Regions from separate parts of the Homo sapiens genome. Here region 2 is linked to region 1. The links come from fine-mapping of genetic effects on gene expression. Tissue or cell type: whole blood. Region 1 holds a variant in brackets; the other region holds the start of a gene. All regions are shown on one strand. Distances are from middle to middle.

Region 1 (8,079 bases):
TGAGAGCGAGGAGAGGGGTAGGGAGAGGGTGGGCTTACTCACTTGAGGAAAAAAACATGATGCCAGCAGAGAAGGGCCGGGAGATGCGGGAGAAGGTAGGCTGATGAGCGAAGGCCATGATGCCCATGATGATGCCGGAGATGGCGCATAGGGCAGACAGGATCATGAAGGCCCGGGTGGCATTCCAGTATGCTGTGGGAGCACCCCATGGTCATTCCCACACCTCCCCTGCTCTAAGTGAGAGATGCTGCTACCTCTGAGATGAAAATGCCTTGCCCCTTTCCATATCCCTAACCCAGCTCATCCTTCCCTTCTTTGCAAATGCCCTCTTCTTCACCTGGCAAACTCCTACTCATCCTCCAAAGCACAGCTCCCGTGACCCATCCTCTAGGAAGCATCTCCCCACCCCTCAGTCATCATCTTCACCCACGGCTAAGGGTTGTGACTCTCTTTGTCTGTCTCCCCCTCCAGCCTGATTGCTCCTTGAAGACAGGCGGTGGGTTGGTTCTGTGTCATAAACACCCCCACCACACATTTGGTTTGCATTCTGGCCTTGGGAAATGTTTGTTGAATGAATGAATGAATGAATGCTGATTCCTTATATTTTCCTACTAATTACTATTCTCTCTCACATTTCTTTTTTTTTCTTTTCTTTTTTTTTTTTTTTTTTTTTTTTTGAGACCGAGTCTTCCTCTGCCACCCAGGCTGAAGTGCTGTGGCACAATCTCAGCTCACTGCAGCCTCCACCTCTGAGGTTCAAACGATTCTCCTTCCTCAGGGTCCCGAGTAGCTGGGACTACAGGTGCGCACCACCATGCCCGGATAATTTTTGTATTTTTAGTAGAGACGGCATTTTGCCATGTTGGCCAGGCTGGTCTCAAACTCCTGGCCCCAAGTGATCCACCTGCCTTGGCCTCCCAAAGTGCTGAGATTACAGGTGTGAGCCACTGCGCCCAGCCTACTCTTTCATTTATTTTATACTACTTGCTTATATCTGAAAATGTCCTATTTACTTGTTTTTAACTTATTTATAATGTCTGTCTCTCCTCAGTAAATCCTTAGCTCTCAAGGACAAGCACCTTGCTTTCTCATTCACCACTGTGTCCCCAGCACCTACACCTGGTGCATAATAGGTGCCCAATAAATGCGTGAAATGAATTAATGTTGAGCACCGGGGCCATTCTTCTCTTGTGCTTTGCCCAGGGATGGCCCCTCAGGAAAGATAATAATAATCTCTTCATCCTTTAGCAACGGCTAACTATATGCCAGGCTCGCTACCCAGGTGTGATGTTGTTTATTCCTCCAGAGCCCTACTCTATAAGTACCATTTTTATGCTTCTTTTTCAAGTGAAGAAATGGAGGCCCAGAGAGGTAAAGTGACTTGCCCGAAGTCTCATAATTAGAAACAGGGCTGGAGTCAGAATCCAAGCTCCAAGGCCCACGCTCCTAACTGCTTGGCTATTCTGTCTGCTGGAGCACCTGGGAAATGGTGCACCTCAAACCTTGCATCTTGCCATTGAAAAGTAAAAAGTCTAGGATCTTTGTAAAACCCAGTCTTCTGCCTTGTAGAAGCCTCGGTGAGAGAAATTCCTGGCTGTTTCTCCATGGATTTTATGGGTTATGCCTTTCTGTCCCCCGCCTCAAATGTTTATGTTGAAATTGTAACTAGTGCCTTAGAATGGTAACTTATTTGGCAATAGAGTCTTTGCAAATATAATTAGTTAAGACGAGATCATGCTAGAGTAGGGTGGGGCTCTAATCCAAAGACTGGGCTGGGTGTGGTGGCTCCTGCCCAGTGTAATCCCAGCACTTTGGGAAGCCAAGGCAGGTGGATCACCTGAGGTCAGGAGTTTGAGACCAGCCTAGCCAAAATGGAGAAACCCTGTCTCTACTAAAAATACAAAAATTAGCCAGGCTTGGTGGTGGGCACCTGTAATCCCAGCTACTCAGGAGGCTGAGGCAGGAGAATCACTTGAACCCGGGAGGTGGAGGTTGCAGTGAGCCAAGATCATTCCACTGCCCTCCAGCCTGGGTGGCAGAGCGAGACTCCAACTCAAAAACAAAACAAAACATAAAACAAAGACTGCCGTCCTTATAAAAAGAGGAATCTGGACACAGACATGCTTTTAGGAAAAATGCCATGTGTGAGGAAGGTAGAAATTGGGGTGATGCATCTCCAAACCAAGAAACACCAAAGATTCCCAGAAAATCACCAGAAGCCAGGGAGGGAGGGACATGGAACAGATTCTCCCTCACAGCCCTCAGAAGGAACTGATTTTGCCCACATCTTCATCTCGGCCTCCAGAACTGTGAGACAACACGTTTCTGTTGTTCAAGCCACCCAGTCTGTGGGGCTTTTTTATGGCATCCCTAGCACACTAATTCAGGCTGGTCACAGCGGCTCAGGCCTGGAATCCCAGCACTTTGGGAGGCCGAGGCAGGAGGATTGCTTGAGGCCAGGAGGGTTTCTTTTTGATTATTTATTTTATCTTATTATTATTTTTTGAGACAGGGTCTTGCTCTGTCACCCAGGCTGGAGTGCAGTGGCTCTATCTTAGCTCACTGCAGCCTTAAACTTCTGGGCTCAAGTGATCCTCCCACTTCAGCCTTCTGAGCAGCTGGGGCCACGGGAGCACACCACCACGCCCAGCTAATTTTTTATTTTTTGTTGAGATGGGGTCTCCTTACGTTGCACAGGCTGGTCTCAAACACCTAGGCTCAAGTGATCCTCCTACCTCAGCCTCCCGAAGTGCTGGGATTCCAGGCTGAGCCACCACGTCCATCTGAAGCCGGGAGTTTGAAACAAGCCTGGGCAATACAGTGAGATGCTGTCTCTACAAAAATCAAATCAAATGAAATAATGAGGCCAAGTTCGGTGGCTCATGCCTATAATCCCAGCACTTTGGGAGGCCGAGGCGGGTGGATCACCTGAGGTCAGGAGTTCGAGACCAGCCTGGCCAACATGGTCAAATCCTGTCTCTACTAAAATACAAAAATTAGCCAGGCATGGTTTTGGGCGCCTGTAATCCCAGCTACTCGGGAGGCTGAGGCAAGGAGAATTGCTTGAACCCAGGAGGCAGAGGTTACAGTGAGCCGAGATAGTGCCATTGCACTCTGGCAGGGGTGACAGAGCGAGACTCTGTCTGAAACAAAACAAAACAAAACAAAAACAAACAAACGAAAAAACGAAAGACCTTCACCAAGGCTCCCTGTCTCCTGCATCCCTGGCAGAGATAAGACAGAGAGGTGGCTCAGGGCTGTCCCTCGGGGAATTCCCAGCCCGAAGCAGGAGAAATGTAGAAGTGTCACAAATGAGACAGCCAGAAAGGAGAAGGATGTGTGGAGTCAGGCAGAGCGGACTCTGAAGCTGATGGCCCAAGGCAAGTCTTTTCACTTCTCCCTGCCTCAGTCTACCTCTCCAGCAAACAGGCATCGTCCTGCCTCTCTCTCAGGGCTGGCTCCGGGAGAGATGAGTGGGCGAAGTCTCCCATGCCTGTCACGTCCGGCACTCAGTGACGCTTAGCTCTTCTTCTCAGCTACTCAAGAGGATGTTTGAATTTTGAGATCAAATCTCATGTCTCACTCTTACATACAATTGAACTGCCCGTAGTGTTGTTGGGGATGGAAGTGAGTTTATCCATGTAAAGTGCTTAGAATAGCACATAGGGCATAGTAAGCACTCAATCAATGCCAGTTATTATTATTACTGTTACTAGTAGTAATACACAATATATTATATATTATTAATTAATTTTTATTTATTTTTTAGACAGAGTCTTCGTCTGTTGTCCAGGCTGGAGTGCAGTGGTGCCATCTGGGCCCACTGCAGTCTCCGCCTCCCAGGTTCAAGCGATTTTCCTGCCTCAGCCTCCTGAGTAGCTGGGATTACAGGTGCTCACCACCATGCCTGGCTAATTTTTGTATTTTTAGTAGAGACCGGGTTTCACCTTTTTTGCCAGGCTAATCTTGAACTCCTGACCTCAGGTGATCCGCCCACCTCAGCCTCCCGAAGTGCTGGGATTACAGACGTGAGCCACCACGCCTGGCCAAATTTATTAATATGTTATATAATAAGTGTGCAATATAATATACTCTACATTATTAATTTATTATATAATATATTGTATAATATATACATTATTAATTTATTATATAATGTCATGACATATACTATTTATTAGATAATGAATGTGTAATATAATGGATTCTACATCATATATAATATATTACATGTGCATTACTTATATAATATGTAGCATATTATATACAATATATTATGTATTAGTAATTTATTATATAATAGAGGTGCATGTATAATACACTATACTGTATATTATTGTCTATATGTAGTTATATATAATACATCATAAATTATATGTAATAATATAAATTGCATATATTACACATAATATAGTATACATTAACTTAATATATTATAGATGCTATGCAGCAAGCAATATACTATATATCTCTATGTATCTCTCTATCTATGGCCTGGCACATTATAAGTAGGCAAAAATACTTTATGCTACTTTATGCAGTATTTAGCAAATTCAGTATCCACCAGTACCTAACATAGTTCTTGGTCCATAGTACATATTTAGAAAATGCTGTTTCGTGACACTAGCCCCAATTGCTGTGCATGACACCTCTGAAGCGTC[A/G]GGAAATGCCACCTCTCCCAACTTAACCTTCAAACCAGCACCCCGTGAAACTGCAGCTAGAAAACAACCCTGTAGTCCCAGTTCTGCCCCCTCCATGCTGAGTGACCTTGGGTTGCTCCCTTTCCCTCTTTGAGCCGCAGAGTTCTCCATCTGGAATACAGGTGTCCTTGGGCCCCGAGGTCCGCCCTGCTCTTTCCCCAGGCGCGGCCTGGACCCTGGCCGGGGGGCTCACCGATGCTGTCTGTCTGCAGGTAGCACTTGTTGCCCAGGCAGTACCGCCACAGGCCCTGGTGGGCGAAGGACCCTGACAGCCGGTACTGCATCCAGTGGTCTGTTGCCATGGCCACCACCAGGAGGATGGTCCCCACCCAGGCACAGAACAGGCCACCACCCATGAAGCTGTACATGGTGATCTGTGGGGAAGGGGAGAGATGGGATTGGGAGCTGAATTCCCGGGACTTGAAGGGAGGAACTGGGGGGAGAGAGGGCTCAGGAGTGGGATGCCAAGTGCTTGGGAGAAGGAGATGGAGACCTAGACGCCTGGGTCCTGGGCGAGGAGGGGACTGGAGCCCGGACTCCTGGGTCTGAGGGAGGAGGATGGTAGGGATCCTGGAAAGACAACAGGGAGAGCGGGGCTGGGTTCTGGGAAGAAAAGGCCGGGGGCCTGGACTTCCAGGTTCTGAGCAAGGAATAGGCTGGAGGCCTAGCTTCCTGAGTCCTAGGTGAGAAGGGGCCCAGGAGCCTGGATTCCTGGGTGGTGGGTAAGGAAGGGGCTAGGGGCTAGGGGGTAGGACACCAGGTCCTGGGAGAAGAAGGAGCTGGGACCCTAGACTCCTGGGACTTGGGGAAGAGGGGGCTACAGGTCTCACGCCTGGTGCCTACCTGAGTGGCAGAGCCTGCCCGAGCCCTCCTTCTGCCACGGCCCCTCTGTGCAGACTGAGCTGAGCCTGGTCACTGGCCTCTTTGCCCCCTTAGGTTCCCCAAATCCCTTAAGCCTCCCTACACAATGGTCCCACTACCCAGCAGCTTCCAGCAGGCAGAAATGCAGCGGTGGCAGAGGCCTCAAATGGAATTCGCTGAAGCAGGCATCCAGGGGGCTCCCCCCACCCACTCACTGACCTCTGTGACCCTCCCCGGAACCCAATACCTTGTCGCCAGCCTTGCTCAAAGCAACCCTGGCTTTGTCCGAGCTGTGTAAGCACGCACACACGCACACACACACACACACACGGGCGCGCGCACACACGCAAGATTCAGGGAGAGTCATGCGTTTATTGTTCAACCAGGGCTTTCTACCTGAAGAGCAGGCAGTGGGGTGGGGAGTCACAGGTGTCTGGGTATGTGGGGCCAATGCGGTTCTTTGTGGGGATGGACACAGGGCTGTGGCTGAGGTTGAGGATGGAGCTCTTTGGGGCTGTAGATTCAGAGGACATTAAAGATGGGCTGAGGTACACAGGCAATGAGGAGAAAGGGGTTGGTAAAGAGGGTGGGTTAGGGTTGAGGCGCAGAAGTGGAGCTGGGACTGGTGACAGGGATGGGAATGAATGGGTTTGGGAACAGGGTATTGAGAGTGGGGAAGAGAGAGGCAGGTAGGAGTGGCTTTGGGATTAGGGAGAGGATAGGGAATGGGGTTGGAGGAGCCCTGGGGGTTGAGAATGAGGTAAGGATTGTGGTTGTGGTTGGGGATGGCATTGGGAATGGGGTTGAGGCCATCAAGGAGACAGGTTTGGGTACGAGGTTTAGGATTTTCTTCTCACTTGGGATTCAGGTGACTTAGGTCAGGTTCACCAAGTGCCTCACAGGAGCTACTCCTGGGATTGTGGTTTTGGGGAGAGGGGAGGATGGAAGATGTTTCTTGGGGTTCTTCTGACAGGGCTGAGATCACTCTGGGCCCCAGGAAAACCCTCCTGGGTGACTGCAATCTCAGGTGCCTGACCCTCCAAGGTCCTAGTACTCTGTCTCCCAGTCCTCAGCAGCCAGTGGTGTTTCCAGGGGTGGCTCTGGACCTCGAGCTTCTTTCTTCCCATCCTGGGCAGGCAGTGTTGGTGGTGATGGCAGTGTCATTGGTGGGGTCCTGGGGCCAGCCCCAGGGCCCCCCGCCCGGCCCCTCTCTGGCTGCTCAGCTCTCCCAAGGCCCCGTCGATGCAGGCCTCGGCCCCAGCCTGGCCTGTGCCTGACTTCCCAGCCTCCGCGTCCCCTGGGAGGCCTCCTAACTGCCCCCGGCTGGGAGTGGCCTGCCTGGGAGCAGCAGGGGCAAGAGGGCAAGGCCTGTTGGAAGGTGTAGGCCCCCAGCAGGGCGCTGTGCAGGAGGCAGGAGAGGGTGTCCAGGCGTATGGGCACGGTGACAGAGGCCACGCTCTCCGGGAGCCCCAGGTGGGTGGGGTCTGTGGAGTTCAGGAGCAAGGGTGGAGGGGCTGGGAGAGGCGCAGGGGGCCATGGCTCGGTCCCAGATGACGGCAGGGACAGGTTGTTCCTAGAACAACAAAAAGACAGGTCAGTGGGGCTCAGCGTCTCCGTACTTTCTTGTTTCTCGCTGCCAGGCTGTCTCTGCACCTCTGCAGAAGGCAGCCATCTCTCCATCCTCAGTGCCCACCTGTGACTTCCTCCCCCGCTTCTCTCTTTTTGTTTCTAACCCGGGTCTCTCTAAAGAAACAGACAGCTCTGCCATGAACTTCGGCACCAGACAGAACTCAGTTCCAATTCCTGGTGGCCTCGCTTTTGGTGGTGTATCTTTGGACAAATCATTTTCCTATTCCGAACCTTAATTTGTTTATAGTCACAGATGGCTTTGGATGGTATCAAAGGTGCGTATGACAGCGCTGGGTCTGGTAAGTGCTAAAACAGTGGACAGCTACGATTTCTCCAGCCTTCTGGGGATCCCTGGAGTCTTCACATTTCTTGGTTTATTCTTGGAAATTTCTGTTCGATGAGTATCTGTTTCTAGCTCTTTTTTTTTTTTGAGATGGGGTTTCACTCTTGTTGCCCAGACTGGAGTGCAATGGCGCTAACTTGGCTCAACGCAACCTCTGCCTCTCGGGTTCAAGCGATTCTCCTGCCTCAGCCTGTCGAGTACCTGGGATTACAGGCACGCACCACCACGCCCGTCTAATTTTGTATTTTTAGGAGAGACAGATTTCTCCATGTTGGTCAGGCTGGTCTCGAACTCCCGACCTCATGTGATCCACCCGCCTCGGCCTCCCAAAGTGCTGGGATTACAGGCATAAGCCACTGCACCCGGCCTCCGCCTGTTTCTAAGTATCTCGCTCAACTCTCACCAAGATCTTCTAAGATTCTGTACCTATGTGATGATACCTGAGCCTTTTTTGTTTTTCCTGATTCTCTATGCAGGTCTGTTCAGCGCGCCCTTTCTCTCTCGTTTTCTCTGTCCCCTCCTCTCTCTGGGTCTCTGTCCCCCTCT
Region 2 (8,079 bases), 29 kb after region 1:
TGTCTCTACCACAAATACAAAAATTAGCCGGGCGTGGTGACACATGCCTGTGGTCCCAGCTACTCAGGAGGCTGAGGCAGGAAAATCACTTGAACCTGAGAGGTGGAGGTTGTAGTGCGCTGAGACTGCGCCACTGCACTCCAGCCCGGACAACAGAGACAAAATCTGTTTCAAAAAAATAATTGATAGCCGGGTACGGTGGTTCACACCTGTAATCCCAGCACTTTGGGAGGCTGAGGCGGGTGGATCACCTGAGGTCAGGAGTTTGAGACCAGCCTGATCAACATGGTGAAACCCCGTCTCTACTAAAAATACAAAAATTAGGGGGGCATGGTGGTGGATGCCTGTAATCCCAGCTACTCAGGAGGCTGAGGCAGATGAATCGCTTGAACCAGGAGGTGGAGGTTGCAGTGAGCCGAGACCTTGCCACTGCACTCCAGCCTAGACAACAACAGTGAAATCCCATCTCAAAAAATAAAATAAAATAAAAATAAATAAAATAAAGAATAGCATGCATGCACGGAGAGAAAGACTGGAGGGGGTGAGAACGGAAGCAGAGAAGGCATGCAGAAGGGGCCAGTGGTGCCCGGGGTGGGGTGGGGGGTGTTGATGCATGGCTTGTAGTAGTGAGGGAAGAGTAGGGAGAACTGGCTTGGTTGTATTTTGAAGGGAATTTGCTGATGGATTGGTTGTGGGGTGACAGAGAAGAGAGGAGTGAAATATGATTCTAAAGCTTTAGACTTGGCTGGGAAAATGTGGTGTTATTTGCTAAGATGGGGATAGAGATGGAGCATAAATGGTGGAATTAGTCTTTTTTTTTTTTTAGATGAAGTTTCGCTCTTGTTGCCCAGGCTGGAGTGCAGTGGCATGATCTCACTGCAACCTCCACCTCCTGGGTTCAAGTAATTCTCCTGCCTCAGCCTCCCGAGTAGCTGTGATTACAGGCACCCATCACCATGCCCAGGTAATTTTTTGTATGTTTAGTAGAGATGGGGTTTCACCATGTTGAACACGCTGCTCTTAAAATTTTGACCTCAGGCGATCCACCCACCTCGGCCTCCCAAAGTGCTGGGATTACAGGTGTGAGCCAGCAGGCGTGGCCTTTTTTTTTTTGAGACAGGGTCTCACTCTGTCACCCAGGCTGGAGTGCATGGTGTCATCATGGCTCACTGTAGCCTCCAACTCCCAGGCTCAAGAGATCCTCCCACCTCAGCCTCCCAAGTAGCTGGGACAATGGGCATGCACCACCACACCCGGCTAATTTTTTATTTTTTTTGTAGAGAAGAGGTCTCACTATGTTGCTCAGGCTGGGGAATTATCTTAAGTTGGTTTTGGACAGGCTAAGTTTGAAGTGCTGATTAGACACCCACATGGAGATGTTGCATAGACAGTCTTCAGGGAAGGAGCCACGAGATACAATTTTGCAGTCATCAGCATAAGATGTTATCTCTTAATAATTTCCAGAATTTACAGAGTATTACCCAGGGGCCAGGTGATATTCTGAATATTTTATTATGCAAGTACAATATATTTAACACCCAGCATCATCCTAGGAGGTGGCCGCTAGTATTGTCTCCATGTTACAGCTAAAGAAATTGAGGCACAGAGAAGTTAAGACACTTGTTTCATGACACAGTGATGACAGCAGGATTTGAACCCATGCAGGCTGATTTCAGACCCCCTGTGCTGAATCCCTAGGATGCCCAGCCTCCCGATGATACACATAATTGTTAAGCAGTTAAGTGTAGTCATGTCAATGGTGGCAGTAATAATGGAACAATGGCTACAGATTGAGAAAGTGCATGTATTCTAATCCTCAAACCAACTCTCAAAGGAGACAGAGGAAGAAATGAAGGCTCAGAGGGGGTGAGTGACGTGGCTGAGGTCTCATAGCTAGTAAGTGCCAGGCAGGATTTGAATTCAGAACTATCGGTGCTTTTCCCACCTTGATGTCGCTAAGACAAGGGGTGCAAAAGTCAGAAAGTGGGATGTCAGCTTTAGAGAAGAGAAAAAGTGGAAGCATGGCCCAGACACTCACCAGGGGGCCAGCCGTCGGGACCACATTGATGTAATCCAGGATCGTGCTGTGCCGGGAGAACCTGGGCCTCGGGGTTTCTGTCTGAGTCCGTCTCTTCGGTAGAATCTTCATGCTGAGGAAATGAACCCACCTGTTTGTGCCCTGCTGCACCTCCCTGTGACAGACTGCCACGTTTACTACCTGAGACCGTCACTATGACAGTTACTACTGTTACCACTTGAGACCGTCATTATGAGACTGAAAGAAGGAGGACAAACGTAGAAATGAAAACTTAAGACAAAAGAAATTATTTTAAAGGAAGGGGTCAGGGGAAGAAGAAGAGGGTTCCCTGCTACTAGTGAGCCAGGGCAGCTGTCTGAGCCTCTACAGCCCTTTGTATTTATTGGGTAGAAAGAGCAGAGAGCAGGAGGTAACAATTGGTCAGCTGTTTAATTGATCACAGGTTCATATTATTACTAACAAGCTTCAGCTGTGCCTAATTACAAGAAACACTTCGCTTGGGGCGTGACTGCCCTCAGCATTCCCTCTGGGAAGCAGACGCAGTTTGTCAGTTGGACAACATTCTGCATTTATGAGAACAGTTTGCTGTTTACTCATGTAACCTCCAGAGGTATACTGCGTTGATCACGACCTTCACTCTTTCGGCCTGCAACACCTCCCCTCTTCCTGGGTCCAGGCCCCAGACCCCGCCACGCCTCCTCTTAACCTACATGATCAGGGCCAGGCAGAGGAAAAGAAGAGCCGTGATGCCGATTCCCAGAAACGCTCCGTTGGAGAATGCCGTTGAGATGAGTCCCTTCTTATCTGCACACGGAGAGGGCAAGGTGAGCATTTCCCATCCACGCAGGGCTCACGAAGCCCGCTCATCACTCGGCATTAAGGCTTCCGGTTCCCATGGCGGACATTGTATCTGCAACCCCTCTGTTTACTTTTAGGAAACCCTGCCACACCCCGGCCCAGGTGTTAGGACTTCCCATTGTGTTTTCCTGTCTACATACAGATGCCACGGGTCTGCTGTGTCCCTCCAAGCTCCTGCTCCAACCACAGGACCCTACTCTTTGCCCCAGTCAGCTTCTCCTCCAAGAACCTTGGCATCCAGGCGGCCCCCTAACCTGGCAGCTGCAGGATGGATCCACTCTGGGCCCCATGGACGTTCCAGGCCTCACAGCGGAGCCTGAGGCCGGAGCTGAGCCCTCCATGGAGGCTCAGGGAGCTGTTGGCCCAGGGCCCGGCTGAGCTGGGGGTGACCTCGAAGGAGTCCTGGCTGCTGTTCCCCTCCAGCAGCTCCTCCCCAAGCCACCAGCGCAGAGAGGGGGCCGGGCTGGCCTGGGAGGAGCAGCTGCAGTGCAGACCCTCAGCCTCCCAGGAGCAGGAGGGGCCCAGCAGCTTCGGGGAGTCTGAGGGGAGGGAGGACAGGACTCAGCAGGGTCCCCTTCCTGGGACCCAGGTGTCCCCTTTCCCCCACTCACAGTGCACGGAGAGGCTGAGAGAGACGTGCTGGGAGCCCAGTGGGTGCCGAGCGTGGCAGGTGAACTCTCCTTCGTGCTCCACTTGAACCCGAGGCAGCTCCAGGACCCCGGGGTCTGAGGGCTGGGAGGGGCTCAGAACCTGTCCCCTCTGGGTCCAGCTCAGCCTGGCTGGGGGGCTGCTGTGTGTGACACAGACCAGGCACAGGCTTTGGCCCTCCAGTACTGGGAGAGACGTGCCGTTCCCAAGGTTTTCCAGGACTAGGGAAGGAAGAGGCAGAATCGATGAGCAGCTCAGGGCTCAGGGACCCTCCTGCGTGGGGACCCTCCAGACTCCTGGGCCCCCAATTCGGCACTGAGAGGCCTTGGCTCCTCTGTCCCCTTTCCTACCTGTCCTGTTTGCTTGGGAAACCATCACTCTCAGGTTCTCTGGAGGATCTGAAATGGAGACAGGGGACCGGCTCTAGACGGACCAGGGGCTTCCCTCTGGGTAAAGGGAACCATCCTGGACACTGAGGTGGGGGAAGTGGGTGGGATAGAAGGGCAGGGCAGAATCACCCACTGAGTCCCAGACACAAACTGCATGAGGGTCTACACAGGTAAGAAGGTCGGTCTCCGAGGCCTGGGGCTCCAGGCCCCCTCAGCTCTGGGACCCTGAGCCCAGCCCCTGTATCCCTCTGCCCTCCCAATGGACTCCAGGCCCCTGCTGGGCACACTCACACTGCACAGAGAGGTCCAGGGCTCGCTGCTGGGAGCCAAGCCTGTTCTCCGCTCGGCAGGTGTAGCGCCCTGAATCCCCAGCCTTCACCCCGGGCAGCTCCAGCCCCAGGGGTCTAGGGCCCCAGGGATGGGACGAGGAGAGGACTCTGTTCTGCAGGACCCAGCTCAGTGTGGCAGGGGGCTGGCTGTCAGCAGCACAGAGGAGCCGCAGGAACTGGCCTTTTTGGGCTTCCAGGTATGGGACATTTCCCTGGGGCTGGGGCTCCAGGGCTGGAGTGGGAGGAAAAAAAAAAAAGAGAGAAAGGGAGGGAGAAAGAGAGAAGGGGTACAGGGAGGAGCACATCCCCTCATCCCCTGAAGCCTTTTCATCTAAAGACAACTGGCCCAGCCCCAGCCCGACGGCCCTCAGTACCTGGCGTGTTGTCACGTGAAATGCTGATAACAAGGTCTCTGGGGGCATCTGCAACAAGATTGTGAGCTGGCTTCAGGGAGGGACAATTTATTCCTCACACCTGGAAAAAACTCCCTCAGGGAAAAGAAAGTGGGACTATCCCGGGAAGACAAGTGACAACCAGCGCCAGGGCTCACGTGTGTGGACCAGACGCCATTCCCATCCCCCTCCCAGGGCTGCGGCGGCATCCTGGGACCCCACAGCTTCCTCTCCCTGGATGCTCCTGAGCTGGGAGCCGCTCACTGTCCCACTGGGCTCCTCCACCTCCCCACCCACCGGGGCTGTCTGCACACCCCACCCTCCCAGGCCACACTCACAGGCCACACGGAGTCGGACGGTCCTCTGTGCGCTCACACCCTTTCTGGAGAAGTCCACATGGCAGGTGAGGTCGGTGTTGTGGTCCTGGGGTCTGGGCGTGAAGCTGAGCACTGAGAAGTGGGAGGTCGTTGGTTTGGTTCCTTGGGAGGAGAGGGCAGCCCCCGTCCAGGAGAAAGAAGGGGGTGGACATTCCTCAAAGGCCCAGTTAAACACACAGATGACCGTCACCGGCTGCCCGGGCTCCAGGGTCTCGGGGATGTAGACATCAGGCTTCTGAGTCAGGGCTGGGACAGAGACCGTGGTGGGAGATTCTTGTGCTGCAGGGGTCCCTGAGAGCCCTCTCTGCTCAGCCCATAGGCTGTCCCCAGGGTCCCTCCCCAGTGTGAGAGGCAGGGGTTCCCACCCCATTCCATACCTGTTACTTTTAGAAAGAACCCATCGTTCATGAAATTATATCTCACATAGCTTCCTCTCTCCACCCGAAAGAAGTACTGTGACTCATCCTGCATCTGCGCGTCTCTGATCACCAAGGAGCAGTTCCCCTTGGCGGGATCCCCAGTGAGCTGGAATCGGCCCCGGGTGCTCATTTCCACCTCTCGACTCTGGTGGTTTGTGGCCACAGGAGCACCCTTGGTTGTCTCAGTCACTGCTTTGAACCAGTAGCCATAAGCTGGGGTAGACCCTGTCCAGTCCTGTCGGGGGTAGGAGAAAGAGCAGGGCACAGAGATGCACAGGCCCTCCGGCACCATCACTGACTCCTGCACTCGTATCCAGAATCTCCCATCCATAGCCTGGGACCCTGTGGGGAGACAGAGGCTCAACCTGCAACCCCAGCCCTAGCTCCGCCCCAGGTCCTTTCCGGCCCTTGGCCCACTCACCGCCCAGCAGCGAGGACAGCAGCAGTGGCAGTAGCATCTCCGCATAGGAGGCGCAGGGCCTGCCTGAGACAGGCCTGTTCTCTGGTCGTGCTGTGAGTGGCTCAGGGCTCTTGGCAGAAGGGGAAGCCGAAGGCGGAAGCTGAGCCCTGGGGCCTGATGCATGAAATGAGCTTCAGACGCTGAGCTCACAGAACTCCTTTGCCTTCCCCCACACTCTCCGGCCCACCTTGCCCAGTTGTCCTCTGGGTCTCCTGGGGGCCCAGCCTGGCCTTGGGCTTGTTGAGCTGGTCCTTCCAGAGCTCCCTGTGTAGGAGGAGAGGGCAGGCTTGTGTCTATCCTGGGGGCCTGGCTGGGGGTGGGGTAGTGGGGTGGGGGCTCTCCCTCTGGGCCCTGGGTCATCGGAAAAGCAGAAGTGAGAAGTCCACAGTGAGCTACCCTTATCTGGGCCACTGGTGGTGGAGGTGGTGGGTACAGGGGAAGGGACCGTTACTGGAGGGGGCTGGTCTTGTCAGGTAAAATGCAGGATGCCTGGTTAAAGCTTTCACAGACAATATAAAGTATTTTATTTTATGTTTTTTGGTATAAGTATGTCCGAAATGCTGCATGGGATATACTTATACCAGAAAGCAAAATAAATTTATCTGAAATTCAAATTAATTAATTAATTAATTATATTTTGAGACAGAGTCTCACTCTGTCACCCAGGCTGCAGTGCAGTGGTGCAATCTCTGCTTACTGCAACCTCCACCTCCCAGGCTGAAGTGATTCTCCTGCCTCAGCCTCCTGAGTCTGGGCTTACAGGCACGCGCCACCACGCCAAGCTAATTTTTGTATTTTTAGTAGAGGTGGGGTTTCACCATGTTGGCAGGGCTGGTTTTGAACTCCTGACCTCAAATGATCCACCTGCCTTGACCTCCCAAAGTGCTGAGATTACAGGTGTGAACCACCGCACCTGGCCTAAAATTCAAATTTAACTGAGCATGTTGAATTTCTTTTTTTCTAAATCTGGCCACCGTAGGGTGGTGTCAGCTCCACCTCTTCATGCTTCCTGGTGAGCTCACTGACCCTTGGTCCCCAGAAGCAGTCTCCTGCCCCAACCAGGCCCTAGTCCACTTCCCAGTCTCCCTTCCTCCTCTGTCATTCAATTGGGACACCCATTGGGATTAGAACACATATGTCCAAAGCTAATGCTGATGGGAAGAGTTTGAGGAAGGCGGGAGTGAGGGGCAGAGTGGGGGGAACAGACTAGGGAAGGGGTAATTTGCAATGAATGGAGTAAACTCTACAAGATGTTTTCCCCTCACTGAGCTCTTCCTGAAATGACTCTGTTTGGGTCACACCGAAACACAGAACTCATCCTTCAACCTCCACATACCTTGGGTATCAAGCACTGAGCTTTAGGGGGACTTGGAGGTGAATCCTCCATGGTGAGTCAGCTCCAGGGCCCCAGGTTAGCAAATGAAGATTCTTAGAAACAAAGTACAGAAGGTCCCCTAAATGAACTGGATGCTGGACAGACATTCAGGATGGGACCTGGGGAAGGAGTGGTCAGCTCTTCCTGGTGGAGGGAAGTCAGGAGAGGCCTCCTGGAGGAGATGACCCAGCCTCTGCCCTGTCCTGGTTCTTTCATCCATGGCATTTTTGTTTTTTGTTTTTGAGACAAGGTCTTGCTCTGTTGCCCAGGCTGGAGTGCAGTGGTGTGATCATGGCTCAGTGCAGCCTCCATCTTCTGGGCTCAAGCGATCCTCCCACCTCAGCCTCCCAACTAGCCGGGACTATAGGCACACACCACCACGCCCAGATAATTTTTGATTTTTTTTTTTGATAATTTTTGTAGAGACAGAGGTGTTTGTTTGTTTGTTTGTTTTTGTTTTTTGAGATGGAGTTTCCCTCTTGTTGCCCAGGCTGGAGTGCAGTAGCATGATCTTGGCTCACTGCAACCTCCACCTCCGGGGTTCAAGCGATTCTCCTGCCTCAGCCTCCCAAGTAGCTGGGACTACAGACATGCGCCACCATGCCTGGCTGATTTTGTATTTTTAGAAAAGATGGGGTTTCTTCATGTTGTTCAGGCTGGTCTCGAACTCCTGACCTCAGGTGATCCACCCGCCTCAGCCTCCCAAAGAGCTGGGATTACAGGCGTGAGCCACTGCACCTTGCTGAGACAGAGTTTCACCATGTTGGCCAGGCTGGTCTTGAACTCCTGGGCTC

The links. PIP is the estimated chance that this variant, and not a neighbour inherited with it, causes the effect.
Region 2: SIGLEC10-AS1 starts here. The variant in region 1 is fine-mapped to the expression of SIGLEC10-AS1 in whole blood (TOPMed, PIP above 0.99).

The regions. Positions count from the first base shown.
Region 1 is chr19:51,382,376-51,390,454 of GRCh38, forward strand. It overlaps LIM2 (lens intrinsic membrane protein 2), which reads right to left and starts at 5,599. Exons shown (of 5, transcript NM_001161748.2): 1 at 5,544-5,599; 2 at 4,894-5,074; 3 at 43-192. The coding sequence starts at 5,068. C19orf84 (chromosome 19 open reading frame 84) reads right to left here. Exons shown (of 2, transcript NM_001193623.2): 2 at 5,914-7,134. The coding sequence ends at 6,609. It overlaps LIM2-AS1 (LIM2 and SIGLEC10 antisense RNA 1), which reads left to right and starts at 4,733. Exons shown (of 2, transcript XR_002958397.2): 1 at 4,733-4,822; 2 at 4,913-4,996. The variant A/G (reference allele first, on the strand shown) is at 4,662.
Region 2 is chr19:51,411,674-51,419,752 of GRCh38, forward strand. It overlaps SIGLEC10-AS1 (SIGLEC10 antisense RNA 1), which reads left to right and starts at 4,051. Exons shown (of 3, transcript NR_164125.1): 1 at 4,051-4,459; 2 at 4,756-5,057; 3 at 5,459-6,524. SIGLEC10 (sialic acid binding Ig like lectin 10) reads right to left here and starts at 5,969. Exons shown (of 11, transcript NM_033130.5): 1 at 5,872-5,969; 2 at 5,409-5,792; 3 at 4,993-5,277; 4 at 4,637-4,684; 5 at 4,225-4,494; 6 at 3,895-3,942; 7 at 3,508-3,765; 8 at 3,151-3,435; 9 at 2,749-2,842; 10 at 2,039-2,150. The coding sequence starts at 5,908. RefSeq lists enhancers at 5,899-6,068, 6,129-6,198.